Regions from separate parts of the Homo sapiens genome. Here all the other regions are linked to region 4. The links come from fine-mapping of genetic effects on gene expression. A gene starts in region 4. Each other region holds a variant in brackets. All regions are shown on one strand. Distances are from middle to middle.

Region 1 (7,793 bases), 90 kb after region 4:
AATGGTAACAATTATCTGAGCCTTCATGGAGTTGTAATCTTCCTTTGGTGGAGGGTTTTGCCTCGATGTTGGTGGCTGCTGACTGATCAGGGTGGTGGTTCCTGAAGGTTGGGGTGGCTGTGGAATTTCTTAAAATAAGACAGTAATGAAGTTTGCTGTATCCATCGACTCTTCTTTTTTAATTTTTTTCTACCCCTGCCCTTCCCCTGACTCTTCCTTTCACAAAAAGATTTTTCTGTAGCATGTGATGCTGTTTGATAGAATTTTACCCAGAGTAGAACTTCTTTGAAAATTGGAGTCAGTCCTTTCAGACCTTGCCACTGCTTTGTCAGCTAAGCTTATGTAATATTCTAAATGCTTTGTTGTCGTTTTAACAGTGTTCATAGCTTCTTCATCAAGAGTAGTTTCCATGTCAAGAAACCACGTTCTTTGCTCATCCAAAAGAAGCAACTCCTCATCCTTTCAAGTTTGATCATGAAATTGCAGTTCAGTCCCATCTTCTATTTCTCTTGCATTTCCACCACATCTGCAGTGACTTCCTCCACTAAAGTCTTCAACCCCTCAAGGTCATCCATGAAGACTGGAATCAACTTCTTCCAAACTCCTCTTAATGTTATTATTTTGATCTCCTCCCATGAATCACGAATGTTTCTAATGGCATTTAGAATGGTGAATCCTTTCCAGACGTTTTCAATTTTCCTTGCCCAGATCCATCAGAGGAATCACTATCTATGGCAGTTATAGCCTTATTAAATCTATTTCTTAAATAATAAGACTTGAAAGTAGAAATTAGTCCTTGATCCATGGGCAGAGAATGGTGATCGTGTTAGCAGGCAGGGACACGACATTTATCTCCTAGCACATCTCCCTCAGAGCTTATAGGTGACCAAGTGCATTGTCAATGAGCAGTAATATTTTGAAAGGAATCTTTTCTTCTGAGCAGTAGGTCTCAACGGCGGGCTTAAAATATTCAGTAAACCATGCTGTAAGCAGTTGTGTAGTCATTCAGGCTTTGTTGTTCCATTTCTAGAGCACAGGCAGAATAGATTCAGCATAATTCTTAAGGACGCTAAGATTTTCAGAATGGCAAGTGAGCACTGGCTTCAGCTTAAAGACACCAGCTGCATCAGCCCCTAGCAAGAGAGTCAGCCTATCCTTTGAAGCTTTGAAGCCAGACATTGATGTCTTCTCTCTAGCTATGAAAAGTCTTAGATGGCATCTTCTTCCAATAGAAGACTGTTTAGTCTACATTGAAAATTTGTTGTTTAGTGCTCCTGTCTTCATCAATGATCTTAATTAACTAGATCTTCTGGAAAACTTGTTGCAGCTTCTCCATCAACACTTGTTGCTTCATCTTACACTTTTTTATGGAGCTGGCTTCGCTCTTTAAATCTCATGAACCAATGAGGTTCAAAAGCTTCAAACTTCCTTCTGCAGCTTCCTCACCTCTCTCAGCCTTCAGAGTGGAAGAGAGTTAGGACCTTTCTCTGGATTCGGCTTTGGCCTAAGAGAATGCTGTGGCTGCTTTGATCTTCTATCCAGACCACTCAAACTTTCTCTGTATCAGCAATAAGGCAGTCTCACTTTCTTATCATTTGTGTGTTCCCTGGAGTAGCAGTTTTAATTTCCTTTAAGTACTTTTTTTTTGAGATGGAGTCTTGCTCTGTTACCCAGGCTGTAGTGCAGTGGCATGATCTTAGTTCACTGCGGCCTCCACCTGCCAGGTTCAAGTGATTCTTCTGCCTCAGCCTCCCAAGTAGCTGGGATTACAGGTGCACACCATGCACACCACCACGCCCGGCTAATTTTTGTATTTTTAGTAGAGATGGGGTTTCATCATGTTGGCCAGGCTGGTCTTGAACTCCTGACCTCAAGTAAGCCGCCCGCCTCAGCCTCCCAAAATGCTGGGATTACAGGCGTGAGCCACCGTGCCTGGCCAAGAACATTTTCTTTGCACTCACAATTTGGTTAACTGTTTGGCACAAGATGCCTAGCTTGGGGCCTATCTCAGCTTTCGACATGCCTTCCTCACTTAGCTTAATTACTTCTACCTTTTGATTTAAAGTCAGAGGCCTGTGACTCTCCTTTTCACTTGAACACTTAGAGGCCATTGCAGGGTTATTAATTGTCCTAATTTCAATCCCCAGGGAACAGGGATGCACAAGATGAGGGAGACAGACAGAGGAATGGCCAGCTGGTGGACCAATTAGAACACATACAACATTTATCAATTAAGTTCACTGTCTTATATGGGACCCCCAAAACAACTACAGTAGTAACATCAAAGACCACTGATCACAGATCATCACAATGATATAATAATGAAAAAGTTTTAGATACTGCAAGAATTACCAAAATATGACACAGAGACATAAACTGAGCATGTGCTGTTGGAAAAATGACACCAACAGACTTGCTCAAAGCAGGGCTGCCACAAACCTTCTATTTGTAAGAAATGCAACATCTGGGAAGTGCCATAAAGCCAAGCATGTTGAATAAAAGCCTGAATTAACTTTGTCAGTGGGCCACTAGTTGACCAGAAATTTTTCATTCTGATGTACTAAAAATCATCTTCCTTTTTTTTTTTGCTTACAGCTTGTGTTTTGAAATTTTAAGAGGTCCTTCCCCACCCTTGGATCGCAAGGAAGTGTGTCATCACCATATTCTGTTAACTTATCATTTTACTGTTCATATTCGGTATTGGCTTCATTTTGAATAGTCCTATGTATGTGATGTTGGTTTTTTACCCCTGCAGACACTGAAATGACTTCTAAATATCCACAAGTAACTCGTCCTTTCCCCACTGATTCCTGGGCTGTCTTTATCATGTAATGATTCCCATGTAATATAGTCTCTCTCTGGGCTCCCTCTCCTGTTCCCCTGGTCTGTGTGTCTGTCCTTGGTTTTGTGTTGTATCTTAATTCCTAGTTGAGCAAGTTTGACTTAGCATTTCATGGATTTTTATACTTCCATAAAAAATTTAAATCAGGGCCAGGCGCAGTGGCTCATGCCTATAATCCCAGCACTTTGCGAGGCTGAGGCGGGCGGACCACTTGAGGTCAGGAGTTCGAGACCAGCCTAGCCAACATGGCGAAACCCCGTCTCTACTAAAAATACAAAAATAAGCTGAGCTTGGTGGCACATGTCTGTAGTTCCAGTTACTTAGGAGGCTGAGGCAGGAGAATCACTTGAACCTGGGAAGCAGAAGTTGCAGTGAGCTGAGATCACACCACTGCCCTCCAGCCTGGGTGACAGAGTGAGACTGTCTCAAAAAAAACCCCAAAAAACAAAAAACAATTAAGTCAGGTTTTCAAAGTCCTTAATAGGATGGTTGAAATTCTGATGGGAAATCTGAGTAGCATAAAGGCATTCTAAGTGGGGAAATGATAGGCGTGAAGGTAGGAAAAATGAGTAAGTCAAGGTTAAGGCACGTGACCCATTTTTGATGAAGCTAAAGGTATCGAGGTATCTTAACATCACCAAGTTCTTTCTCTTTTCACAGTTTAACAAAGTTAAGATCAAGGTATCAGTTATACTTTTATTGTATAAAAGCACATAAGATGACCTATATCCTTTACTCATGCCAAGAAAACTACCTGCTTTACCCACTCTGCTCTTGATGCGCTGTTTAAAAAGCAGTTTCACTTCCATAGCAACACATTCGTTTCCTTTCCACTTCCTGTAATACTTGCTAACTTTCACTTCTGGTTTGTTTTGACTCCTCTATTTTGGAAGTCATTTCGTTTTCAAGTAAAGTAAACATGAACAACTCTAAAATACAACTTATACCTCTGTGTCTTAGTCGAAACAATACAAACACCCTAGCACTTTTCATCTTTAATTCAACTAGACGTTCACTACCAGATGGCATACTAGGCCCGTTGAGTTTTGCATTACTTAGTTCCTTAAAAATAAAAGGAGAGAGGCTGGGGCCGGTAGCTCATGCCTGTAATCCCAGCATTTTGGGAGGCTGAGGCGGGTGGATCACTTGAGGTCAGGAGTTCGAGACCAGCCTGGTCAACATGGCAAAACCCCATCTCTACTAAAAATACAAAAATTAGCTGGACGTGGTGGCACATGCCTGTAATCCAGCTACTTGGGAGGCTGAGGCACGAGAATTGCTTGAACCC[G/A]GGAAGCAGAAGTTGCAGTGAGCCGAGATCATGTCACTGAACTCCAGCCTGGGCGACAGAGCGAGACTCCATCTCAAAAACAAACAAACACACACACACACACACACACACACACACACACACACACACACACAACAGGGAGAAATAAAAGCAAAGTGCTCAGGTCAGGCTCTGGTCAAACCAGGGCAAAACAGACAGCTCCCCAGGGAGCTCAGGAGGAATTCCCAGCTCCTGCAGGGCTGAGCAGAGAGACCAGCTGGAGAATACACTTCCTTTTCCCTCTTCTTGTCTTCCACCTGGCCCTTATTTCCATTTCTGCTTTGTCTCCAGGCAGGTGCACACTCCACCTTTTCTCATTGATGTGATGGTCCCCACTCCTCTGTCCTGCCAGATTTAGGTCAGCTGTTCTGAGCACACGGCAAAGCAGCTTTAGACTCCTGCACTGTCGAAAAACACTCGCTGAGCCTGAGTAATTGCAAGGAAAACGGATGCATGCTGTCAGATCCTCCACTGCTATTTTCTCACACTGAAGTCTATTTTTCTTAGGTATCTAGATACCTTTAATTTCCATTTCTCTCACTCCTTTCTTGCCATCTGTTCATTTTATTATTGTTCCTTATTTATACATTAACATTAAATATACTCTTTTGAACGTATAATAATGACTTTCATAATTAAAACATTTAAATGGCTTATTCCTTCTTTCTTCGAACTATTTTTATCTACTTATTTATTTTGAGATGGAGTTTTACTCTGTTGCCCAGGCTGGAGTGCTGTGGTGCGATCTTCGCTCACTGCAACCTCTGCATCCTGGGTTCAAGTGATTCTCATGCCTCAGCATCCCAAGTCGCGGGATTACAGGCATGTGCCACCATGCCCAGCTAATTTTTGTATTTTTAGTAGAGACAGAGTTTTGCCATGTTGGCCAGGCTGGTCTCGAACTCCTGACCTCAGGTGATCTGCCTGCCTCAGCCTCCCAAAGTGCCGGGATTACAGGCATGAGCCACCGCACCCAGCCTCTTTCTTCTGATCTTCGTTCTCAGCTCTCACCAAACTGGCTTAGAGACTTCACTAGGAAGATGTGTCCTCCGCCATCCCAGAATTCTACAGGTAAGTCTTTCACCATCTTTATAGCCCAGTGGTCAAATAGCAGCTCGGGATCAGACAGGTGAGGCTGCATCAGTTTCACTTCCGCTCTGCAGTTCATTATCTGTGTGGCCTTGGGCAGCGTCCGGGACTTCTCTGATTTCCTGTAAACCAGGCTTGCTAATGCTGCCCCCATAAGATTGTTGTCATTTTAAAACAAGAAAATTCAGGCAATTCGTGTAACCTGGTGCTTGGCACATGGTGAAGGCTCGATTAATGGTGGCTACTGCTCCTTCCACCTGGCTGCCCACTGGGAGGACAGATGACAGGAAAGGAAAGAGCTCTGCTGACGGTCGGAAGGTAACGTAGTACCATCCTCTATGAGCAGTAAAGCTGAAGAAGCCCAGTATAATGAGCCAGCACTCCCCTTTTAGGATATTCTAGAAAAGTTCCCATATACAGACAAGGAGGCAAGGCCAAGTGTGTTCACCACAGCATTGTTTGTTATGAGGAAAAATGGAAATAACCTAAATGTCCCAGAATAAGAGAACTGGTAAATATGTTGTGATATTTATACAACCAATAGCATACAGAAGAGGAAAATGAATGAAACAGAAACACAAGGAAAAACTTCAAAAGTATAATATTGTGGGAGAAAAACAGATTGCAGAATAATACATGCAGTGTGACAGTAACTTCTTATAAAATTTCAAACATATAAAACAGCAGTGTGCATTGTATTGGCACACATACATGTAGAGAAGTATAAACATATGTATGGGAGTAATACAGATAAATTCAGAACCATGATTACTTTAGGGAGAGGATATATTTAGGGACCCTCAACTGTATCTATTTTACCTTTTTAAAGGATCTGAAGTAAATGTGGGGCAAAATGTTAAGATCTGATAAAGCTGGTTTGTGGGTGCATGGGTATTTTTATATTATTCTCTATATACATTTAAAAAGTCTGTAATATTTCATAACAAAAAAACTAATGGTCTTACATGTTGAAATAGTACTCACAGAAATTAATTCCTTATAACCTATAACATTCTTCATTGTATCTATTAAATATGATTGGTTTTGGCGGGGGGGCGGGGGGGCCGTGGTTCACACCTGTAATCCCAGCACTTTGGGAGGCCGAGGCAGGTGGAGTCAGGAGTTTGAGACCAGCCTGACCAACATGGTGAAACCCTGTCTCTACTAAAAATACAAAAATCAGCTGGGTGTGGTAGTGGGCGCCTGTAATCCCAGCTACTCAGGAGGCTGAGGCCGGAGAATCACTTGAACCCAGGAAGCGGAGGCTGCAGTGAGCCGAGATCACACCACTGCACTCCAGCCTGGGCAACAGAGCAAGCCTCTGTTAAAAAAAAAAAAAAAGACTGGTGTCTTTTATTTCATAGATGGTCCACAAGAGGGAGATCTAGAATAATTATGTGTAAGGAGAACAGCCTCCTAGGGCTTGTCGGGAGTGCTATGGAAACCAGGTGTCATCGGACAGTCCTACCGCCCTCTGGCAGGAGAGGCGATGCCCCTACCCCTTGTTCCCAAACCTACACAACAACTCCTTACGGCAAAGAGGACACATCACAGGGCGCAGTGACAATCTGAACCGTGTTGTGTTTTCTTGTTTTGTTTTGTTTGAGACGGAGTCTCGCTCTGTCGCCAGGCTGGAGTGCAGTGGCGCGATCTTGGCTCAGTGGAACCTCCGCCTCCCGGGTTCACGCCATTCTCCTGCCTCAGCCTCCCGAGTAGCTGGGATTACAGGCGCCCGCCACCACGCCCGGCTAATTTTTATATTTTTAGTAGAGACGGGGTTTCACCATGTTAGCCAGGATGGTCTCGATCTCTTGACCTTGTGATCCGCCCGTCTCTGCCTCCCAAAGTGCTGGGATTACAGGCGTGAGCCACCGCACCCGGCCTGAACAGTGTTTTAAAAAACACAATGTAACAAATTGTTGGCAGAGTAAGTAACACCCAGCAGCTAGAGGAAGGGAGTTGAGAGTGCAGGCAAACAGGCGCGACCCACGGGTGTCCCTGGCACCTATGGCGGGTGCTCCCTCCATTCCTTTGGGACGCTTCCTAAGGCGCTGTTTTTCTTGTTATTCTGTACACTTGATTCCCTCGAATTCTCAGGAAAATGCTGCCAGCGGCCAATTCACCAGTAAAGAGCTTTTATTACACAATCATATAATAAATATGACCTCAGAGCTGGCTTTTATCCAGGCTAATGCCCACAGAGAGGGGACCGTGTTCTGGCCACCTTTGGAGACTGGGCTTCCTATTGAGGGTTGGGAGCCTTCTCCTAAAGAACTAATCAACCAGAAACCAGAAGTGAGTCTTAGAAAACAGCAGGCACCACCCCTCTGATGTCATCTTTGAAAGAACCAAGAAAATCTTGCCTTTCAAGGATAGAGCTCTCTCCAGTGCAGCTCACAGGAAATTAAGCACTACGTTTCAATGAAGACGGGAGTGAGTGTAAATTCTGATTTCACCACCTACTAATTGCATGCCCTTGGGGAAGCGAATTAGCCTTGTTAAGTCTATTTCCTTTCTTTGTAAAACTAGGAAAAT
Region 2 (7,793 bases), 980 kb before region 4:
TGCACATTTGTAAAAGTTGCAGACCTCAGTCTTGGTGTAACTGGCATGATAGGAGGAATGCATCTCCCAACCTATCGCCTTTACAACATCATTCCCCAGTTAGGGAGCCGCTTTCTGTTCACCACAGAGCCCCACAGGAGGGTGGCACAGAGGCCACTGGCGGTCATCTCCCTCTTAGCATGGGGCATGTGATGAGCTTCCTGATGGAAAACATGGTCCGAAGGCAGATTCTGAGAGGAGAGGACGGAGGCAGGGAGTTTTCAGAGGCCAGGGCAGAACAGAAGAGGTGGGAAGTCCTGGAGCAATCTCTAGCTTCCTCGCAGCATTTATTCAGACCCATAATGAGGGATTTGAATGTTTGGGCCAAATGTGTCACATCCACAATCCATTCCTTTATTTTCTATTCAAGCACTTGTTCATTCACACTTCTGCTCACCTACAAATAATTGTGTACCTGCCATGTGCCAGGAATGGTCATAACTAATGAAAACAGATGGAGATGGTAACAGCAGCACACAGCTGTCTGTTCTAATGGAGCTCACAATTGTGCATGGGCACGTGTGTGTGTGTGTGTGTGTGTGTCAGGGCAGCGGGGAGACCACCATCACCCAATAATCATACAAATAAGTAGAAGATTACAGTTCCGGTACAAGCGATTAAAACAGGTGCACAGGGCTGTGAGAACTGAAACCTGAAGAGATGTGGAGGAATTAATTCTGCCCAGCTGCAGAGGGCACAGCACAAACCTGACTAGGCAGGTCCCTTTAGGCCACATTGTGCCAAAGGATGGTGTGTCCAGCACAGTTTTGTTTGTTTACTTTAAGTTCTGGGATACATGTGCAGAATGTGCAGGTTTGTTACATAGGTATACCACATGTGCCATGGTGGTTTGCTGCACCTATCAACTTCTCATCTAGGTTTTAAGCCCGGGATGCATTAGGTATTTGTCCTAATGCTCTCTCTCCCCTTGCCCCCCACCCCGCAACAGACCCCAGTGTGTGATGTTCCCCTCCCTGTGTCCATGTCTTCTCATTGTTCAACTCCCACTTACGAGTGAGAACATGCAGTGTTTGGTTTTCTGTTCCTGTGTTAGTTTGCTGAGAATGATGGTTTCCAGCTTCATCCATGTCCCTGCAAAGGACATGAACTCATCCTTTTTTATGGCTGCATAGTATTCCATGGTGTATATGTGCCACATTTCCTTTATCCAGTCTATCATTGATGGGCATTTGGGGTTGATTCGAAGTCTTTGCTATCGTAAATAGTGCTGCAATAAACATACATGTCCAGCACAGTTTTGGCAACTAGTCTCTAGTGGTGAAGCTCACAGCTGAGAGGATGACCGCAGTGACTCACGTAAAAGGAAAGCCAAAGGCTACAGAGGGAAGATGCTCTGGAGTCAGAACACCTGGGGCACACCTGGCTTCCTGCCCAAGCTCTGCCCCTTAATCACCATCTGACCATGGACAAGTCACTCAGCATCCTGAGCTTCAATCCTCTTATCTCCGAGCCTGGACTATGCACCTCACAGGGTTTTGCGTAAATTAAACCAGGTAGTGTGAAAACACTCAGACCAGTCTCTAGGACAAGGGAGGAACTCGATGACTGTTGACTAAATCTGATCAGCACCCTTCCACCCCAATGGAATAGGTCACTCTTCCTATGCCACTGTCCTTTCCTCCATGCTGCTTCCTTCCATCAACTATCACTGTCTCTTTGGAGGCTCCTTACAATTAGTGGCTGTGTTTGCATTTTGAGGACTCACACCTGGGACGAGTTCCTCATCCTGACACTCGATGCCTGCCACATTCTGGCCTGACTTCCTCTGAAAATACAGTCTTTATCCTGATGAGGAACTGGGGTCTTCTTGTTCCTCAAGATGTTTGCTCCTTCCCATCTCTGCTGAGTAAAGTGCCATTGAGCACCTAAAGGTGTGTGACTCTGCGTTCAGCACTGAGGGATAGAAAGGAAGTGTCAGAATGAGTCCATGCCTCCAGGGAGCAGAAACACACCAGAAACTCTGGGTGATCAATTGAATGTCACACTGCTGGGCCTGACTGATCCCATAGCACTGGAAAGAGAGCACCCAAGAAGGAGGACAAAGAAGGCTTCACAGAGGAGGAGGCTGAGCTGCACCATGACACTGAGGTGAGATCAGGCAAGAGGAAACAGAAGGATGTGAAGGCAGTTTCAATGCAGCGAAGGCAGAGGGTTGTGCAAGAGCTTCTATCACTGTTCGGCATGTGCATGAAGAGGCGCTGGGAACCAGGCCCTGGTGGGAATGAGGACCCGCTAGGGGGTGTCTCGCAGGCCAATCAGAAGCATGCTGCCTTCCTCTCCACCACCCCAGTAATAAAATGGAAGAAATAGAAAGTGACTCTCACAAACTCGAGCTGGACGCATTTCCGAGGGACTGAGTAACTCCCAAATTTGAGGGAAGGGCTGAACAGCCAAACCACAGGAAGACGGAAACTAGACAGTCCTGGCCAAGCTCCCATCGCTCTGCACAATCACCAGGGTCCCAGCTCCAGTCTGCGTGGCCACCGCTCACCATTCCCGTTCCCAGGAGGACAACTGTGATTGGCCTGAGATGGAAACAATGCTGTCCCCAAATCAGTCAGTGACCACAAGTCAGTGCATGGGGAGGACAAGAAGGCTCAGAAACCATGAGCGTCTCCTGTGTACTGGGGCAGTTTCCAGGGAGTAAGTCATCATTGGCTGAGGAGACCCCCTGCACAGGCGATCTGCTGCACCCCAGGTCAAGGCTTAGCTGAAGCCCTGCCTCTAGTCAGGGGAGGGCACATATCACCATCTCCCCATAATGACTAAAGAGGGAAGAGTGCAGCCTGGGGTGATGAGTGTGAAGAGGCTGATTTTATGGACAAGCTAAGACTGGACCTTCAGAAATAAACCCCCTCTTCCTGCGGACCCACAAGTGGTCTTCTGGGAAGCACTGGATACCTGCCAGCCACAGAAGGTTATCAAGACTGTGCAAGCCGGGCACAGGAGTTTACAGCTGTAGTCCAAGCACTTGGGGAGGCTGAGGCGGGAGGACTGATTGAATCCAGGAGTTCAAGACCAGCCTGAGCAACATAGCAGGACTCTGTCTCTTAAAAAAAAAAAAAAAACTATTCTGAAAAAGAAAAATATTTTAAAATCATACCTGTGGCAGCATTTAGTTAGGAAAGCTCAGCTTATTTAAGTAATATTTAATTTGATTGTGAAAAAGCTTATTTATATGTTGTCTCTTTTCCTATATACTCAGTATGGGTTTTTTAAAAAGATAAACTTACGCATATTAAAATCTTAATGAGGCTAGGTGCAGTGGCTCACACCTATAATCCCAACACTTTGGGAGGCCGAGGTGGGCAGATAGCTTGAGTCCAGTTGTTTGAGACAAGCCTGGGCAACATTGTGAACATTTTTTTTTTTGTAGAAACCCCACCTACCAAAACCAAAACAAAACAAAAACAAAAATTAGCCAGGCGTGGTGGCATGCACCTGTAGTCCCAGCTACTCAGGAGGCTGAAACAGGAGGATCACTTGAGCCCAGAGGTTGAGGCTACAGTGAGCCATGATCATGCCACTGCACTCCAGCCTGGGCAACAAAGTGAGATCCTATCTCAAATTAAAAAAAAGACTTCATGCAGTCAACCAGGACACAGCCTCTTCCCCGCTGCATTTCTCTCTGGGCTGGCAAAGCTGTCTCCTAATGCCAGCAAGTCACTTGGCTGGGGATAGAGCTCAGAGCCCTGCTGGCTTCTCAGACTGTATAACCGTCACCACCAGAGTGCCCAGTCCACGCATCTGCATGGAGCCAGCCAGCGGCATTTCCAGTACTTTCTCATTCTCTAATAGCATTATTTCCAATAAGTCATAAAAAAAAAACTTTTGAAATATGTTTTTGGGAATATTGAGAAAAAGCTACTTTCTAAGTAAGGCAGTAGTAAAGAGAGGAGAGAGAGGAATATAAAAATAAAAATAACTGGCATTCACATAGACTCATGTATCATGCAGAGCACTAGAATGGAGGACATTTCCCAAGGTCACAGAGTAAATTATTAGAAGAAATGGAACCAGAGCTCTCCTTTTCTGACCAGGTGCCCTCGTGGAACTGCTAAACTTGGCTCATTGAGAAT[C/A]AATGAAACAAGATCTTTTTCTATTCCTCCGTTGCTTTCCGTCCTGTTTCCCAGATTCCTCGTTGAGAATCCCAGGCTTAGGAAGCCCTGGGACACAGCACCCCAGTTGAAGTCACCCTTCTCATGGGATCAGCTGAGGTCTCACCTTCTATTTAAAGCCATTTTCTCTCCACGAGGAAAATCATCTGTGCATTCATCCAAGATGTGAGCACACAGTCCCAGGGGCCCTCAGGATGGTTCTCCAAGTAGCCTCGAACCGACCCATTTCTCTCCTTTTTCCCAGCATGTAGCTCTCAGAATAACTGTAAGATGTGCTGGGGATGTAACATCCTGAGACAGGGAGGAACTGCCTGAAGCAGCCAGGCCTTGTCCTGTTCCTCCTAAAGAATATCAGATCTTGAGTTAGGGAGAGGCTGCCCGGGACAGCCCCGGCTCCGTGCCTGCCTCCCCTGGGAGCAGGATGTCCTTCAAAGCTTTGCCCAGCCCTGCACTACATTACCCAGGTGGGCTGTTCTTCAGGGTCCCTCGGCCGTGGTCTAAGTGGGGCACACGCAGTTGAGACTCCATCAGCCCCGGGATAGCCTTCTTGAACCTTGGGGGACAGGCTCACAATGGATCTGAGACATCTTCTGTCCCTGGCTGCCAATTTCTAAGGAATACCCACCTCACATAGCTGGTTTCGTGTGAGCGTGTTTTGTTTCACAGACTTGGGCAGTTGGTAAATCTGTAGCCCAAGATGGCATGGGCAGAAGCGATTGGACTCCTACTCCTGGAAACTGGCAGGGTGATGATCTTCGCTTTCTACCCTGTCTGGGAGTCCTCCCTTGGGATTAGTGATTAGCAAACCTGCTCTGCACAATCCCGGGGTCCTGTTTTGAGATTCTACTTGCTGCGGGGACTTTGAGTACCAATTATGGCACCGGTCAGGATGCTGACGGAAACAGCATGCTTGAATAAAAGCAAATGAAGAAGGTTTATGGGAGGGGTACCCCCAAAGTTGCTGGCCAGGTTAAGGGAAATCAACAAAGGAAGATGAGTGAACCTGGAGCCCACATCTTTAGGAAGCCATGGGCATTCCTTAGCCTGAGATGGAAGGGGAGGGCTTGGTTATCCGAACCTAGTGAGAGCTGTAACTGTTAGAAAAGGTGGAGCCCAAAACATCAGGTGGAGAAGGGCAAACATTGCCATACTGCAACCCAGCAAAGACGTCCCAGGGCGGTACATAGCCTGGCCTCTCCTCCCTGCTTTCCACCTCCTGTCGGTGCCTCTCGTTGGTGGAATACAACGCGAAGCCACTGGACAAAGGAGCCTGAATGTGTCCGGAGCCCAGCCTTACACGGTGCAGAGCGGTGTGTAAGAATGGAGGCAGGGAGAATGGATCTGGAGAGACAAGCAGAGCACACCCAGCTCAACAGCGAAGTCGCCAAGCCCAGCTCAGTTACTTTATCCAAGTCACAATTTCTCTGGGCCTGTATTTTCTCTTCTACACAATGCCTAGCACACAGCAGTTCCTCAAACAGCAAGCGTTTGCTGAATGAGTGAATGAATGAATACACGGATGAATGGGCAGGGAAGCGGCCCCTGTGATCCTGAAATGAGTGGCACCTCCGCCTCCACCCGACAGCACTAGCACCCCACTCTCATCTTGGGTTGTTTTGCACCTTCCTCTCCCTTTGTCAGTATCTAGGACCTGACTATATTCAATAGTCATCTGAGCCGTGGATGCTGCAAGTGAAGGGGATCCATGCCAGGCCTCGGTGTTAGGATGGGTGGTAGAGCCAGGGTCCCTCAGGGCTCACAAGCATGTGCCGGGAATCACACCAGCCAACACTCACCAAAGGACAGGAGGAAAAGCCACCATGGGTGGGATATCGAGGGTGGCTCCCGCTGGCTCCCCCACCACTCCTGGTGATGTTCTCCCCACGACTGTCTTATAATAGGACCTGTGGCAGTCCTGGGGAAACACCAAAATGACGGTGGGGAGCTTTGTGGAACATCGTAGGCCCAGATCCCTACAACTAGATAGGGCCAGACCCACCCATGATCCCTGAGCCTTAGAAGATTGGTGAAGACCCTGAGTTCCCAGAGAATGTTTGCTCGTTGTAAATATGTCTCTGGGAAGGATGAAATGTCCTCCGCAACCATCACACAATAAAAGTTGGCTGAACAGAAATGCGTCTGTTGAAATGGGTGGAAACCCACAGTGCAAGGTTAAGGACTGTCCTGGGCAATCCCTGCTGCCTCTAGCTGGGCCCATGGGACAATGAGAAGTGAGGGAATGAGTTCTGCCTCTAGAACAGGAGACATTTACACCCTGGCACCTGAGCTTTGGGTAGTCTTCCTGTGGAGTGGAAGCCCTGTGCTAAGTGCCCAGATTGGCCCCAGCTGTCTCTGTGAGGGCACCTGCACAGTCTGGGGGTCTCTGGGACCCTGGTCCCCTCTGACATGAAAGTTTTGCTCTGGGGTATGCTCCCTCAAGCCCCCAGACTCATTGCCTTGTAGAAAGATATTAGATGGCCAAGCTCCAGACACTGAGGGAAAGGCAGGTATTTGTGCAGTAGCTACCTCAGCAACGTTGGTTATAACCAGCCCAGCCCAGCTTGTAGGACATGAATCTGAGGTAGCCAGTCAAATGAAAGGCATGTTGTAATTACTATTTTGTTCCTATGCGGCACTGAAGCTGTGACTCTCGCCTTGGGGTGATGTTAGAGGCAATGGGGTGATTTCGAGGAAAGATACTCTGGCCCCCAAATTCCTACTGCAAATGCCTGAAATTCCTTCTTTTCAGTTTCAGCCCTTTGGCTGAGGGCCAGAATAGTAAATCTTTGAATAATGTTTGTCTTCCATTAGAGCCTTAAAAAGTCTTTCAATAAATTCTTATTGCTTGTATTTCTTTCCTTGGGGTCCTGTGAATTGTATCTACAACCGGGTCCGAGGGACTGGTAAGAACTGCTAGGGAGACAGGCACATGGTCCACAGTCATCCACCCCCTCTTCCTCGGGAGTAAAGCTGTTCCTTCAACTGAAAACACTTCCTTAGAAGCCACATGGCAGAGACACAGGTAAGTGATGAAAAAGCGCACCGCTGTTTTAGAGACACAAAGTGTTGTATTTTGTGAGGACACCCAAAGTACCACTTGTGTAGACCCACAGCAGGAAGGAGTGAACGGAAAAGTAGCTGAGACAGGTTTCAATCAGCTCAAGAAGTTTGTTTTGCCAAAGTTAAGGATGTACCCGTCACACGGCCTCAAGAGGTCCTGACAACATGTGCCCAGGGTGGGCAGGGCACAGCTTGATTTTAAACATTTTAGGAAGAAAAGAGACATCAATCAATATGTGTAAGCTGTACACTAGTTAGGTCCAGAAAGGCGGGACAACACGAAGCCTGGGAACTTTCACATCACAGATAGATAAGGGACAAACGGTTGCACTCTTCTGAGTCTCTGATCAGCCTTTCAGTGAATATGCAGTTCACAAGTGAGAGAAGGTAGAGGAAGAGTCACTTGTGCCTTGGTCTGGCTCAGTGAATCTGTATTTTTCCATGAATACAGGGCAGAGGAAGTCATCAGACACACATTGGTCTCAGGTGAGCAGAGGGATGACTGAGTTCTGTCCCTGTTTGGCACCTGTGAGGATAAGCTGTCAACTCACATTG
Region 3 (7,793 bases), 69 kb before region 4:
TGCAGTTCATCCTTTTTAAACACAAAACAACAAACCTCCACTAGCATTTTATACAAGGAGAGAAACTCCACAAGAGAAGAGACTTTGGTGATGACCAAAACATAAAAGAAATAAAACTAAAATTGCTTGATACCTAGAACCTAGAGCAGAGCCTTGCACAAAGAAGATTCTCAATAAATACTCCTTAATTCAACAAGTATCAGAACATGAAAGAATCATGTTCTATTATAGGTCTCTTGAAAAGATTCCATATGAAAAGATTGTTTTAGCTTACTTTTCTTATTCCCCTACTCAAAATTGTAGCCAAACCTCAATGAATTAACATGCCAGAGGACCCTTTTCAATTAATTTTATAATTAATTTCAGATTAAATGAGAAAATGTTTTTAATTTTAAATTTATTTATTTATTTATTTATTTTTTTTGAGACAGGGTCTTGCTCTGTCCCCCAGGCTGGAGTGCAGTAGTGCAATCTCGGCTCACTGTAGCCTCTGCCTCCTGGGCCCAAACAATCCTCATAAGTAGCTGGGACTACAGCCATGCGCCCCCACACTCAGCTAATTTTTAAACTTTCAGTAGATACCACCTTAAGCTGGTCTTAAACTTCTGAGCCCAAGCGATCTACCAGCCTCAGCCTCCCAAAGTGCTGGGATAACAGGTGTGAGCCACCATGCCTGGCCAATAATCTTTCTCAAATATACCTTTTCATAGGTTCCTTTCCCTGCTTGTTCAGTAATTCTCTACTCAGAAATCTGCATACTTTTAACTACTACATTATTTATACTAATTCCTTCTATATTAAATTTATTTTATGTAAGAAATTGTGGATGTTTTTCATTTTTTAACTGTGATAATTATGCACGTAACATAAAACATACCATTAGTGACATTTAGTACATTCTCAATGTTGTATGACCAGCATGATTATCTAGCTGCAGAATATTGTCAGCACCGCAGAAGAAAACCCTATACCCATTAAAGCAGTTATTCCCATTCCTCCCATTCCCCAGTCCCTGGGAACCACTCATTTGCCTTCTGTCTCCATGGACCTGCCTATTCTAGACATTTCACATAAAGGAACCCTACAACATGTGACCTTTTGTGTGTGGCTTCTTTCACAAGCATAATGTTTTCAAGGTTCATCCATGTTGTAGCATGATCACAACGTCATTCCCTTCTCTGTCTGAATAATATTCCATGGTATGGATAGACCACACTTAGTTTATCCCTTCATCAGTTGATGGATATTTGGATAACATGTTGTCACCTTCTGTCTATTGAGAATAGTGCTGCTAATGAACATTGAGTACAAGTTTTCGAGCACCTGTTGACAATTCTTCCAAGTACAAACCCTGGAGTGGTATTGCTGGGTTATATGATAATTCTACGTTTAATTTATGGAGGAACTGCCAAACTGTCTATAGTGGCTGCACTATTTTCCATTCCCACCAGCAACATGTGAGGGCTCCAGTTTCTCCACATCCTCACTGTCGCTTGCTACTCTCCTTTTTAAGTTTATTATTATAGCCCTCCCAGTGGGTGTGAGATGGCTATCTCATTGTTTTGATTTTCATTTCTGTAATCACTAATTATATTAAGCATCTTTTCATCTGCTTGTTGGCCATTTGCATATCTTCTTTGGAGAAATGTCTATCAAATCCTTTGCCCATTTTAAAATTGTGCCATTTGTCTTTTTATTACTGAGTTTTAAGAACTGTTTGGGCCCAGGCACAGTGGTTCATGCCTATAGTCTCAGCACCTTGGGAGGCAAAGGCAGGCGAATGGCTTGAGCCCAGGAGTTTGAGACCAGCTTGGGCAACATGGTGAAACCTTGTCTCTACAAAATATACAAAAATTAGCTGGGCATAGTGGTACACCCCTGTAGCCCCAGCTACTCGAGAGGCTGAGGCAGGAGGATCAAACGAGCCAAGGAGATTGAGGCTGCAGTGAGTCATGACTGTGCCACTGCCCTCCACCGCAGGTGACAGAGCAAGGCCCTGTCTCAAAATGAAATAAAATTACAAACAAGCATTCTTTATATATTCTGGATACTGAACCCTTATTAGAAATATGATTTACAAATATTTTCTCCCATTCTGTGGGTTGTCTTTTTTCACTTTTTTTTTTTTTTTTTTGAGACAGAGTCTTGCTCTGTCGCCCAGGCTACAGTACAATGGCGCGATCTTGACTCACTGCAACCTCCGCCTCCCAGGTTCAAGCAATTCTCTTGCCTCAACCTCCCGAGTAGCTGGGATTACAGGCACCTGCCACCACGCCCACCTAATTTTGTATTTTAGTAGAGATAGGGTTTCGCCACGTTGGTCAGGCTGGTTGCAAATTCCTGACCTCAGGTGATCCACCCACCTCAGCCTCCCAAAGTGCTGAGATTACAGGCATCAGCCACTGCGTCCAGCCCTTTTTTCACATTCTTGATATGTTATTTGATGTACGAAAGTTTTTGTTTTTGATGTAGTCCAATTTATTTTTAAAATTGGAAAGTCTGAGTCTTACAACTTTGTTCTTTTTCAGACTGTTTTGGCTATTCAGAGCCTCTTGTAATTCCATATTAATTTTAGGATAACCTTTTCCCTCTTTACAACAAAGACCACTGACATTTTGATAGGGATTGCACTGAATCTACATATTGCTTTGGGTGATACCTACATCTTAACAGTATTTAGTATTCCATTCTATGAACCTGGAATATCTTTCAATGTGTGTAGGTTTACTTTGATTTCTTTCAGCAATGTTTTACAGTTTTCAGCATACAAATCTTGCAGCTCCTTGGCTAAATTTATTCTTAAGTGTTTTATGACTTTTGATGCTATTGTAAATGAAATTGATCTCTTAACTGCATTTTTCAGGCCACTTGTTGCTACAGTATAAAAATGCAACTGGTTTTTGCCTGTTGATCTAGTACCTGCAACTGCCAAATTCATTTATTACCTCTAATAGGTTTTTTGTGGATTCTTTACGATAGTCTATAAGGAATTTAGTTTTTCAGTTAGGCAGCTGGAGTTTGTTATTCAATATCTACAATTCTCTCACTACTTCTTTCAAAAGCAAATACAGAGTCTATTCAAAATGGTAAACTCAGTATTACTTCTTGATAAAAGCTTTACCAATGTAACTATAAATAAATAAAAGAGCTAGACATTTTCCCATTAATGCTTTAAAAATGTCCACTGGCTATTTGAAAAAGATTTATGAAAATTGTACTTTATGAAAATTGAAGTTGGTGAGATCACGTCTCTATTTAAAAATATTTTTAAATGAAAACTGAAGTAGATATTAGCTTGTTTCCTCATAAAATTTTACATACTTTTGACTTCCTATATTAGAAAATCATTAAGTCCTAAGAACTGATTTTATTTCTTTGAAACTATGACCAAGTGAAAACTCTATTTTAACATTTCTTTCACATTCTAAGGCTCTCTCAATCTCTCAAAAATCTCTTGTATTTTACTCTTAAATTACCTATTATTTGATGTTTTTGTGACAAGATCCAAGTTCTTTAAGTTTTAATGATAACAAAAATTGCTCACTTATCCCTTAAAATAAAATGTCAAAATCAACACTCTAAAATTGCAGTATTCAAAGGCATAGACAATAGAGTCTTGCATCCAAGTTGAAGAGAATATAATTTTTTAGGAGGAAAAAAGGGCTATTTTATAACTAAGATTTCATAAACTATATTATATATACATATATTTTTTCTAGCACCTTAGTAATTCTTGTTAAGTGAAAATCATATTAGATATAAATAACCCCAGCTTATTTTTAAACTCAGTACTTTATGTTCTGTATTAATTAAATGTACCCTTAAAAATAAGTTAAATACAGTCAAGGAAACTTTCAACCATTTCTTTCCCTTATTAACAATTCTAGCAATTAAAACCTTCTTCCAGGGCTGGGCACAGTGGTGCATGCCTATAGTCCCAGCTACTCTCAAGGTTGAGGTGGGAGGGCAGCTTGAGCCCAAGAATTCGGGGACAGCCTGGGCAATATGGTGAGACCCCATCTCTTAAAAAAACAAACAAAAAACAAACCCCTTCTCCCATAGGTTCCATTTTCTTTCTAGCCTTTTAATTTTTCTTCCCTGGACCTTGTTTGTTTTCTCATAAGATACTGAAGTCAGAACTGGATAAATTAGAATATAACTCCCCACTGAGTCTGCAGAAACCACAGAACTTCAGGTAGTTCACAAACAAAATAAATCAGTGGGGAAAAAATGATGCAGCATTTCTGATCTCCTAATTAACTAATTAATCAAACTTCCAGTGATTAAATACATTGATATGGATGCTGGTAAACATCATATACTTACCTAATTCAGAAGAGAATTTCAAGTGGCCTTCTTCTGGATCTTCAACACGACTGTCTATCACATCGTCAATTTTGTTTGCTTTGAACTGTGGCTCGAGCACTCGACTTGGGCCTCGAGTGAAACGGGGATAGAATTTTTTTGGAGATGGTCCGTGGGGCCCAGACCCCTTGAC[G/A]GGCACATTCTTAAGTGGCTGAGTCACTTCACTGAAGTTGAAATAAACAAAAAGCAAAACTGTCCAGGTCGCAGATGTAAAAAGGCACCCATAACAGAAATACCGAACTGTGACACTTCCCATTATAGACCTAGCATAGCTGAAGGGCCATTGTCAATTTCCTAAAAAAGAAGAATAAATATGTTAGACACTTCAGTATACTTTAAACCATCCACCAAATACAGAATCACTGTTTTCCAAACCACCAAGTAGGACCACTATGCGTACAGTTAACGGATATTCAAATACAAGAAGATGTATGGATAGTACTGAGTTTTTAAAAAGGGTTCAACAATGAAAACCTCAGGCCTGTGGGTTAATGCTCAGAGAACCAACGGCAGTGAAATAGCTGACTGATTCATTTGCCCATGTTAATGGATACTTCTTCACCTTTGTTCTGGACTGCTTTCAGTTGCGTAATTTTTCTCATCAGGTTATAATTTTCACAAGGAAAATAACAAGTACCACATGTATCATAACAGGACAACTAAAGTCTCTTCCAACCAAAGAACTGCAAGATTCTTTTTTTAATCCAAGGATCTTAAAAATCTATTATTAAAAATAAGCAACTCTAAGCAACTCTGGCCAGGTGTGGTGGCTCATGATTGTAATCCCAGCACTTTGGGAGGCTGAGGTGGGCGGATCATTTGAGGTCAGAAGTTCGAGACCAGCCTGGCCAACCTGGTGAAACCTTGTGTCTATCAAAAATACAAAAATTAGCTGAGGGTTGTGGTGGGCGCCTATAATAATCCCAGCTACTTGGGAGGCTGAGGCTGCAGAACCTCTTGAACCCGGGAGGCGGAGGTTGTGGTGAGCCAAGATTGCACCACTGTACTCTGGCCTGGGCAACCGAGCAAGACTCTGTCTCAAAACAATAAAAATAAATAAATATAAACAACTTAAAAAAAATTCTACTTTCCAATCAAAGGTTATGCCTGCCCTAGTGTGCACTCTAAATCTAAGTTATTTTCAAATAAAGAGTTCAAGTAATTATATTCCCTCACCTATAAAACAAGGCAAGAAGAACTAAATGTAGCACTGAACAGCAATTTTTCCTAAGCTTTTTTTTTTTTTTTCCTTTTTAAGACAGAGTCTCACTCTGTCACCCAGGCTGGAGTAAAGTGGTGGGATCTTGGCTCACTGCAACCTCTGCCTCCCGAGTTCAAGTGATTCTCCTGCCTCAGCCTCCCAAGTAGCTGGGATTACAGGTGCGTGCCACCATACCTGGCTAGTTTTTGTATTTTTAGTAGAGATGGGGTTTCACCATGTTGGCCAGGCTGCTCTCAAACTCCTGACCTCAGGTGATCTGCCCGCCTTGGCCTCCCAAAGTGCTGGGATTACAGGCGTGAGGCCACCGTGCCTGGCAATTTCTCCTAAGCTTTCTGATATCTGATCTTCATGGAGGCTAATACAATTTCCTAAGGAATTCTAAGGAGCCCAATGCACATATAAAATCATCTCAGTAAACAGACTTATGGCAGAGAAACCATATAAGCAATGTAGATACATAAGAAAACTGCACAGAGATACTGCTTTTAAGTTACTTATTTCTACAGCATAAAATAATCTTAAAAATGGTATTGTCCCCAAAAGATCAGGACAAAGCAAACTGGCATCAGTAAAGCACCACTGTAAAAATTAGGTTCTCTTGTACAAGGTTATGCCATAAGCCTAGAAGATGGTAAACAGTTCAGTTTCTTAACTGTCTGCCAACCAAGAACTATTAAGTATTCTACTACAAGTTAATTAAAAAGTAAAAAAACAAAACAACAGTAACATACCAAAACAAAACAAAAACCCAACCAAACAAAAACTCCCACCAACAGTAATACCAGAGGCATGGCTGGAAATGACAATAGTACAAAGGAAAATCAGGCGCCAGTGAAAGCGCTGCTATGTCAGCTGCAGGTACTTTTAAAACTAAAGACATAAACAGAAAAACACAAATACTTGAAGTAGAAGAAAATGTTCTCTAAGTAAGGAAGCCCATGAGAGCAAATGAAAAGACAAAAAAAAATTGCAATGTGCAACTTTGTAACAAAAATATTGCAACAAAAATGTACAGAGCAGTGACATTTAGGGGAAACAGACATTATAACTCCCTAAAATGTTCGCTTAGGGTAGACAAAGAGCAAGTAAACAAACAACAAAAACAAAAGCACTGCTTCTTCCACAGGCCATGAGATCCTGAAGTTAAAGAGTGTAACCGGACAGGCTGCTCTGAATCCACGAGGAACCAGGCACCTAGGGAGCCAACCCCTTCTTCATCCATATAGCAAGGTCCACGCTTACAGGTTGTTTTCCTCAAACCACTCCCGGCCTTCCCGCTTCCACCATGGGCTGCTTGGCCCTCACAAAAGGGAACCATCCAAAACAGACCCTGAAGAAACCAAGAGCTACTCCATTAGCAGCTATGAAAGATGGACACTGATGTCGTTTCTCGTGTTTTCTTTAGCCTGATTCCCACTATCATGTTGGACCATGCCCAACCCTGCCTCCAAATGTCTTGGTTAGTGTTCCTGCTGTCACCTTTACCTAAATTCCACATAAGGAACTTTGCCCCACCCTCAATTTCATCATCATCCAGGACTGATGTGATGACCTCTTCATGTCTAAGTTGAAACTTTCCTCTCCGGCTGGGGGCGGTGGCTCACACCTCTAATTCTAGGACTTTGGAAGGCTAAAGTGGGCAGATCACCTGAGGTTGGGAGTTGGAGACCAGCCTGGGCAACATGGTGAAACCCCGTCTCTACTAAAAATACAAAAAATTAGGGCCGGGCGCGGTGGCTCACGCCTGTAATCCCAGTACTTTGGGAAGCCGAGGTGGGCGGATCACAAAGTCAGGAGTTTGAGACCAGCCCGGCCAACATGGTGAAACCCTGTCTCTACTAAAAATACAAAAAATTAGCGGGACGTGGCGGCGCACACCTGTAATTCCAGCTACTCGGGAGGCTGAGGCAGGAGAATCGCTTGAACCCGGGAGGGGGAGGTTGCAGTGAGCCGAGATCGCGCCATTGCAATCTAGCCGGGGTGACAATGCGAGACTCCGACTCACACACAAAAATAATAATAATAATAAAATAAATATATATATAAATTAGCCAGGTGTGGTGGCGGGCGCCTGTAATCCCAGCTACTTGGGTGGCTGAGGCAGGAGAAATTGCTTGAACCCGGGAGCAGAGGTTGCAGTGAGCCGAGATCGCACCACTGCATTCCAGCTTGGGCGACAGAGTGAGACTCCACATGAAAAAAACAA
Region 4 (7,793 bases):
ACCTTAAAGTACTTACAGAATCAGGAAGGAGCCATCTATATCAATTCTAAGTTAATATGGACTGAACGAGGTCTTATTAATAGCAAAGAATAATTGAAATCCCAAACTTACAAGGTTTTCAACAAAAGTAAAGTTTGCTAAAAGTTAACAGTGTAAACATATATTATTCTAACTTCTAATCTTGTGGAAATCAGACCCTATCAGTACCCCTCAAAGCTCAAGTCCGTCAGTGCAGAGCCATACAACTAATACCCCTACCTATAGGGTTAGAAATGGCCACTGCTACAGGAACTGGAATAGCCAGTTTACCTACTTCATTATCCTACTACCACACTCTCAAAGGATTTCTCAAGAGAGTTTGCAAGAAATAACAAAATCTATCCAGTAAGGATAGTAACTACAATTCCAAATAGACTCTTTGGCAGCAATGACTCTCCAAAACCACCGAGGCCTAGACCTCCTCACTGCTGAGAAAGGAGGACTCTGCACCTTCTTAGGGGAAGAGTGTTGTTTTTACACTAACCAGTCAGGGATAGTATGAGATGCCACCCAACATTTATAGGAAAAGGCTTCTGAAATCAGACGCCTTTCAAACTCTTACACCAACCTCTGGAGTTGGACAACATGGCTTCTCCCCTTTCTAGGTCCTGTGGCAGCCATCTTGCTATTACTTGCCTTCGGGCCCTGTATTTTTAACCTCCTTTTCAAATTTGTTTCCTCTAGAATTGAGACCATCAAGCTACAGATGGTCTTACAAATGGAACTCCAAATGAGCTCAACTAAACTTCTACCAGGACCCCTGGACCAACCTGCTGGCCCTTTCACTGGCCTAAAGAGTTCCCCTCTGGAGGACACTACAATTGCAGGGCCCCTTCTTCACCCCTATCCAGCAGGAAGTAGCTACAGCAGTCATTGGCCAAATTCCCAACAGCAGTTGGGGTGTCCTGTTTAGAGGGGGGGGATTGAGAGGTGAAGCTGGCTGTGCTTCTGGGTCGGGTGGGGACTTGGAGAACTACTCTGTCTAAAGGATTGTAAATGCACCAATCAGGGCTCTGTGTCTAGCTAAAGGTTTGTAAACACACCAATCAGTGCTCTGTGTCTAGCTAATCGGGTAGGGGACTTGGAGAACTTTTCAGTCTAGCTAAAGGATTGTAAATGCACCAATCAGTGCTCTGTGACTAGCTAACTGGGTAGCAGACTTGGAGAACTTTTCTGTCTAGCTAAAGGATTGTAAATGCACCAATCAGCGCTCTGTGTCTAGCTAAAGGTTTGTAAACGCACCAATCAGCACTCTGTAAAAACCGACCAATTAGCACTCTGTAAAACAGACCAATCAGCACTCTGTAAAACAGAGCAATCAGCACTCTAAAATGGACTAATCAGCTCTCTGTAAAATGGACCAATCAGCAGGATGTGGGTGGGGCCAAATAAGGGAATAAAAGCAGGCCACTGGAGCCAGCAGCGGCAACCTGCTCGGGTCCCCTTCCATGCTGTGGAAGCTTTGCTCTTTCATTCTTTGCAATAAATCTTGCTGCTGCTCACTCTTTGGGTCTGCACTAACTTTATGAGCTGTAACACTGACTGTGAAGGTCTGTGGCTTCACTCCTGAAGTCAGTGAGACCACAAACCTACTGCGAGGAACAAACAACTCTCGACATGCCACCTTTAAGACCTGTAACACTCACTGCGAAGGTCTGCAGGTTGACTCCTGAAGTCAGTGAGCTCATGAACCCACTGGGAGGAAAAAACAACTCCAGACGTGCCACCTTTAAGAGCTGTAACACTCACTGCAAAGGTCTGCGGCTTCATCCCTGAAGTCAGCAAGACCACGAACCCACCAGAAGGAAGAAACTCTGGACACATCTGAACATCAGAAGGAACAAACTCTCGACATACCATCTTTAAGAACTGTAACACTCACCGCGACAGTCCGTGGCTTCATTCTTGAAGTCAGCGAGACCAAGAATCCACTGGAAGGAACCAATTCCGGACACATTTACGCAGCAGCCACGTCAGACTGGGACACTTCCTGCTTACAGAGGACTATAAAACCCCTTCCTCACTTGGGGCTGATGCTATTATAAAACCCATTCCTCACTTGGGGCTGATGCCATTTAGGCATAAACCCGTCTGCACCCAGGCGCTTATTAAAACAGCATGTTGCTCCACACCGCCTCATGTCGTGGGGGTTGTTGGTGCGTCATCGGGGTTCAAACCAATACAAGAGCCTTGCAGGTTGTTTGTAGCACTAACAAAGGATAAATGCTTGAGAAGATGGATACCCTGCTTATCCTGATGTGATTATGCATTCTATGCCATATCAAATATCTCATGTACCTATAAATACATATGCCTACTATGTACCCACAAAAATTAAAAATAAATTTTTTTGAGATGGAGTCTCGCTCTGTCACCCAGGATGGAGTGCAGTGGCGTGATCTCGGCTCACTGCAAGCTCTGCCTCCTCGATTCACGCCATTCTCCTGCCTCAGCCTCCCAAGTAGCTGGGATTACAGGCGCCTGCCACCACGCCCGGCTTATTTTTTGTATTTTTAGTAGAGACGGGATTTCACCGTGTTAGCCAGGATGGTCTTGATCTCCTGACCTCGTGATCCGCTCGCCTTGGCCTTCCAAAGTGCTGGGATTACAGGCGTGAGCCACCGCACCCGGCTAATAAAAAAATTTTTAAAGAGATTTATTCTGAGCGAAATGAGTGTCTATGGCCCATGACACTGCCCTCAAGAGATCCTGAGAGCATGTACCCAAGGTGGTGGGGGCACAGCCTAGTTTTATACATTGTAGGGGAACATGAGTCTTCAATCAAATACAGGTATAGACTAGTTCGGGCAGGAAAGGTGGGACAACTCAAAGTGGCGGCTTCCAGGTCATGGGTAAGATGAGAGACAAACGGCTACATTCTTTTGAGCCTCTGCTCTGCCTTTTACTGAACACACAATTTACGCCATGGGGCAGGCAGAGGAATAGCCACTTGTGCCTTAGTCTGGCTCAGTGAATCTGCATTTTTACATAAATACAGGGCAGAGGAAGCCGTCAGACATGCATCTGTCTCAGGTGAGCAGAAGGATGACTTGAGTTCTGTCCCTGTTCCTCACCTGCGAAGACAAGCTGTCAATTTACACTGCCAGGGTGCAATTCCACACAACTGTTTCAGGGTAAAGATGTGGAGGTCCACAGCGAATTTCCTCCTGGCCAAAGGGTGAGGGAGCTGTGTGGCTTTTTATCTTTGCAGCTGTCTTAGGAACAAAACTTAGGGGCAGGTTTGCCTGACGCAGCTCCCAGCTTGACTTTGGCTTAGTGATTTGGGGTCCCGAGATTAAATTTCCTTCCACACTATTCTCCCTAGTTTTGTGTATGTGTGAACTATTCTATTTCTGGGCACTTTTAATTTTAAAAAGTGGACAATACTGATCTGGACTTCATTTTAGGAAATGCTGGGGGAGGCTGCAGGATCAGGTGTGCCTCCGTCCTAAATACGCGAAAACGAGGCCAGCGCCCTGGTCCTCGCCCCCACGCCCGCGAACAAGCCTCAGGAGACGCTGGGGGAGGCGCGGGGGCAGCGGCGTCTCCCGGAGACACGAGCCTCGCCCAGGGGGCGTGCGGGAGCCCAGGACCCGCGGGGAGCCAGGCGCTGCCCCGCCGCCGCCCCCAGCCTGCCCAGGCCCCGCGCGCCGCCGCCGCCGCAGCTCTCGAGGTGCTGAGGGACGCCGGGAGGCCGCCGCCTAGAGGGTACTCACCGCCTTGCCCGCAGCCCAGGATCGCCGCCTTCTGGGACTCGGGCTGCGGCATCTTCTCTCCCGCCACAGCCCCAGTCCGACCCGCAGGAGCGGCGCGGGCTGAACTGCCCCGGGGCCCAGCAGCCAGGCGTCGCGCAGGCGCTGGGCGCAGTGGCGGCCGCGCCTCCTCAGGCCCAGGGCCCTCGCCCAGTCCCCGAGCCGCTGCCTCCGCCCAGCGCCGCGCGTCCGCCGGCGCCGCGTGACAGGCGGCCCCGCCCCCGCGCCGCGGTGACGAAACCTCTCGCTGCCCTGACGTCACCGGCCGCCGCGCGCTGAGTCCTCCCTAGCGTTCGCGCAGAGGCGCCGCGCGTGGCCTGGCTCCTGTTGTCTGTCACCCGCGGTCTCAAAAGACCCCATTAATGACAAATGCCCTGCCTGTGGCCCCGGCTACTCCGGAGGCTGAGGCGGGAGCAGCGCTTGAGCCCGGGAGCTCTGCGCTGTATGCGCTGTGCCCATTGCGCGGCGACACGCATCTGTGTTCCGCATCGGTGTGGTGACCTCCCGGGAGCAGGGACCACCAGGTTCCCCAAGGAGTGGGGAACTGGCCCAGCTCGGAAACCGGGCAGGGCAAAACTCCTGTGCTGATCGGTAGCGGGATCGCGCCTGTGAATAGCCACTGCCCTCCAGCCTGGGCAATACAGCGAGACCCCATAAGTGAAAAAAAAAAAAAAAGACAAATGCCCTTAAACATATTAAAAGAAGTTAAACGCCACTTGTGATAGAAGAAAATGTAGATTAAGGTGTAAAGAGAGAAGTGGTGAAAAAAACACTCATACCTTGGTGATAATAGTGCAATGTATACAAATACCATAAAAGGGGAATTGGCAATTTTTAAGAAAAATGGTGTGGGCATTCATCTTTGGCCAATAATGCCAAGTTATATTGAAGAATATCTTAATACTAATCTTCTTTGCATTTCTGAAATAAATCCCACTTGGTTAAGAATATTTTTGAACTTTTTTAAAGAACTCATTGCTTCACAATTAAAGTCTGATGGGGTACACGCGTAGCAATGGAGGAACTTCTACAGCTACTATAAATTAAAGAGCACCACCTGAACCAAAGTAGTGGCCTTCTTGAGCTGAACTGAGCTAACCACATTCCCCAGCCCCTCTTCCACAGATACCCCATGGGGTTGTCAGGGTGTAGGGGATGCCATGTTGTACCACCCAGGTTTCCCCTTAAGGACTGAGGACTCATTTCTCCAGTTGTTGGGTGTGTAGGCCGCTGATGGCCCCCAGCTGAGTCTTGTGGCCACTTCCCTCAGCCAAAGAGAACTGCTGCTGGGTGCCAAGTTGAATGCTTTTGACTCCTTCTACCATGCTTGTGTCTTGATTGGAGATTGACAGATATTTCAGGTACTGGTTTCTCTTGCAAGGGCAGTGCAGACAGCACACAGGTATCTTTGCCCAGTTTCCTTCAATGGTTGCAGCTCATGTAAAATATACATAGTATAATATCAAATAAGCGTCATTGGGGATCAATCCTGCTGGGATCCCCCTCAGAAACTATTCACAGCAGTGGCAGGCAAACTAGGGCAAAGTCTACTAGGTATATTTAAAAGTGTATTACAAGTTTATTTAAATACATAAATATGTTTCCAGAAAGTAATCCTTCCAACTACCTAAACTAGTAATGAAAAATGTTAAATATCACCTTAAATATGTATAAGGGGATACTAAGTTCTTGTATTTAAACCTTATTATTTTAGTATATACTCAAGCAAAAGAGTTTGAAGACCAGACCTTTAGGGCCTCACTACTCAAATGGTGGTCCAGCAACAAGCGACACCAACGTCACCTGGAGTGTGTTAGAAATGGGGAGTCTTGTGCTCCACCTACTTAATTAAAATCTGCATTTTTACCAAGATTTCCAGGTGATTTATACACAAATTAACATTTGAAATCATGCTCTAGGATTAATCAGGGCATGTAAATTTCCATTGTTTCATCTTCTCCTGACCCTTGATAGTATCAGATATTTAAATATTTGCCAACCTGATGAGTATGAGATGCATCTGTTTATTACTTTAAATACTATTCTACCTGATTAATGTGCAATAATTACTTAACCATTATTCTCGTAATTGAGGATTTGGGTTAGCTCCAATTTTTCACTATCATACAGAATGACACTAAAATGCTCTTTTCAGCGTATCATTCTGGTTAAACACAATCTTTGAGGCCACGCTGATTAGGATCATGTAAGGGCCGTGTTATTGTTTGTCCTTGGATACAGTTGCCAGATGAAATACAGGATGGCCTGAAATTTGAATTCCAGATTAAGAATAATTTTGTGGTTTAAGTATATCCTGTGCAATATGTGAGAGGCTTGTCTTCATCTGTGCTGCCATAATAAAATACCTGAGACTAGGTAGTTTAAAAACAAATTTGTTTTCCCACTCTCCTGGAGGCTGGGAAGTACAAGATCCAGCAGCCGTATCTGGTAGGCTGCTGGTGAGGGCTTTGTGCTACATCATAACGTGGCAGAGAATCGGAAGAGGAAGCGCGCACTGGCTAAAGGGGCAATGTTACTTATTAACAACCCGCTCTCAAGGTACCTAATCCAGTCTCAAGAGACTGGGAACTCTCAGTGACTGCGTTAATCTTTTCATGGGGGGCTGGTCCCTCATGGCTCAAATGCCTCTTAAAGGTCCTACTCTGTCTCAACACTGTTACCCTGGGGTCCAAGCCTCAACATGAATTTTGGTGGGGATAAAAGGTATTCAAACTGTAGTGCTGTTGCTTTGTCAGTTGTTTCAACATGAATTATGGAAGACACATTCAGAATGTAGCCATATGTACAGTAAAATGTTATTGTCTATTTGAAATTCAAGTTTAACCAGGCATCCTGTATTTTTATTAGCCAAATAGGGCAACGTTAACCTGGGCACATTCTAACCATCGTTTTCTCATCTATGAAATGAGGATAGCAGTAGAACTCATAAAGTTGTTGTATGAATGAAAGGAGATAATCCATGCAGACTACTTATAACAGAGTATGAAACGTAGTAAAAGCTCAGCAAATGTCAGCTCTTCTTAGTTGTTGTTTCATACAGGTGTGTCTTGGGATAAATTCCTAGAAGGATGTTTTAGTTACAGAACTCCTGGGCTTAATTTCAGACTTGTTTGAGCATTCCATCATACCAAAAACTGTTTTGTAAGAAACCCTAAGCAGGTTACCAGATACTTTTCAACTAGCTTCAAAATACAAATCAGATTTTTAAATTTCCACACAAAAACAAAAAATTGCCATCTATAGGCAAGTATCAATTTCCCTTTAATCACACCAAATATTTGGATATTGATTCTGATTTCTTTTCTATTTTAGGGTCAACTGAAGCAATATTTAAGAAGATACTGTCCAAGGGACATGCTGAACAATTTCTAGGACTTATCTGTGTTATCTAGTACCTAAACTAAATTACATTACAAAACTAAGACTTAATATTAGGCCCACGGCTTTTAACAAAAGAGAACACTCCTGTCTTTTGCTTTTGGGAAAGCTGATATTTACAGCATCCATTCTTTATGCTTACCAGAAAAAAAATATACTTTTTAATGTTACATATATATCATTTATATATTACATATAATAATTATATATAACATATATATATTCTCAAATTTCAACTAGAAAAAAACTGTTACTTTAAGAAGATACTCCATATTTATACTACTATAATTCTCTTTTATTTTTTCAGCTACAAGATTTCTATTTTGCTTTTTGTTTGTTTGTTTTTTGAGACAGTCTCTGTCACCCAGGCTGGAGTGCAGTGGTGTGATCTTGGTCTTGGTCTCGGCTCACTGCAACCTCCACCTCCCATGTTCAAGCGATTCTTGTGCCTCCCAAATAGCTGGGATTACAGGCACGTGCCACTGAGCCGGGTTCTGTTTTGCTTTTTTTTTTTTTTTCCTGACGGAGTCTCACTCCGTCGCCCAGGCTAGAGTGCAGTGGTGCAATCTCAGCTCACTGCAACCTCTGCCTCCCAGGTTCAAG

What was found. PIP is the estimated chance that this variant, and not a neighbour inherited with it, causes the effect.
Region 1: its variant is fine-mapped to the expression of GALNT11 in whole blood (TOPMed, PIP above 0.99).
Region 2: its variant is fine-mapped to the expression of GALNT11 in hippocampus (GTEx, PIP above 0.99).
Region 3: its variant is fine-mapped to the expression of GALNT11 in whole blood (TOPMed, PIP above 0.99).

What each region holds. Positions count from the first base shown.
Region 1 is chr7:151,932,289-151,940,081 of GRCh38, reverse strand. No RefSeq gene overlaps it. Among named protein-coding and RNA genes, the nearest start is that of GALNTL5, 20 kb to the left of the region's middle. RefSeq lists enhancers at 6,609-6,658, 6,679-6,778. The variant G/A (reference allele first, on the strand shown) is at 4,131.
Region 2 is chr7:153,005,328-153,013,120 of GRCh38, reverse strand. No RefSeq gene overlaps it. Among named protein-coding and RNA genes, the nearest start is that of ACTR3B, 250 kb to the right of the region's middle. The variant C/A (reference allele first, on the strand shown) is at 4,140.
Region 3 is chr7:152,091,056-152,098,848 of GRCh38, reverse strand. It overlaps GALNT11 (polypeptide N-acetylgalactosaminyltransferase 11), which reads right to left. Exons shown (of 12, transcript NM_022087.4): 2 at 4,327-4,659. The coding sequence starts at 4,621. Among named protein-coding and RNA genes, the nearest start is that of GALNT11, 69 kb to the right of the region's middle. The variant G/A (reference allele first, on the strand shown) is at 4,499.
Region 4 is chr7:152,021,847-152,029,639 of GRCh38, reverse strand. GALNT11 (polypeptide N-acetylgalactosaminyltransferase 11) reads right to left here and starts at 3,966. Exons shown (of 12, transcript NM_022087.4): 1 at 3,756-3,966. RefSeq lists silencers at 3,432-4,131, 4,982-5,276.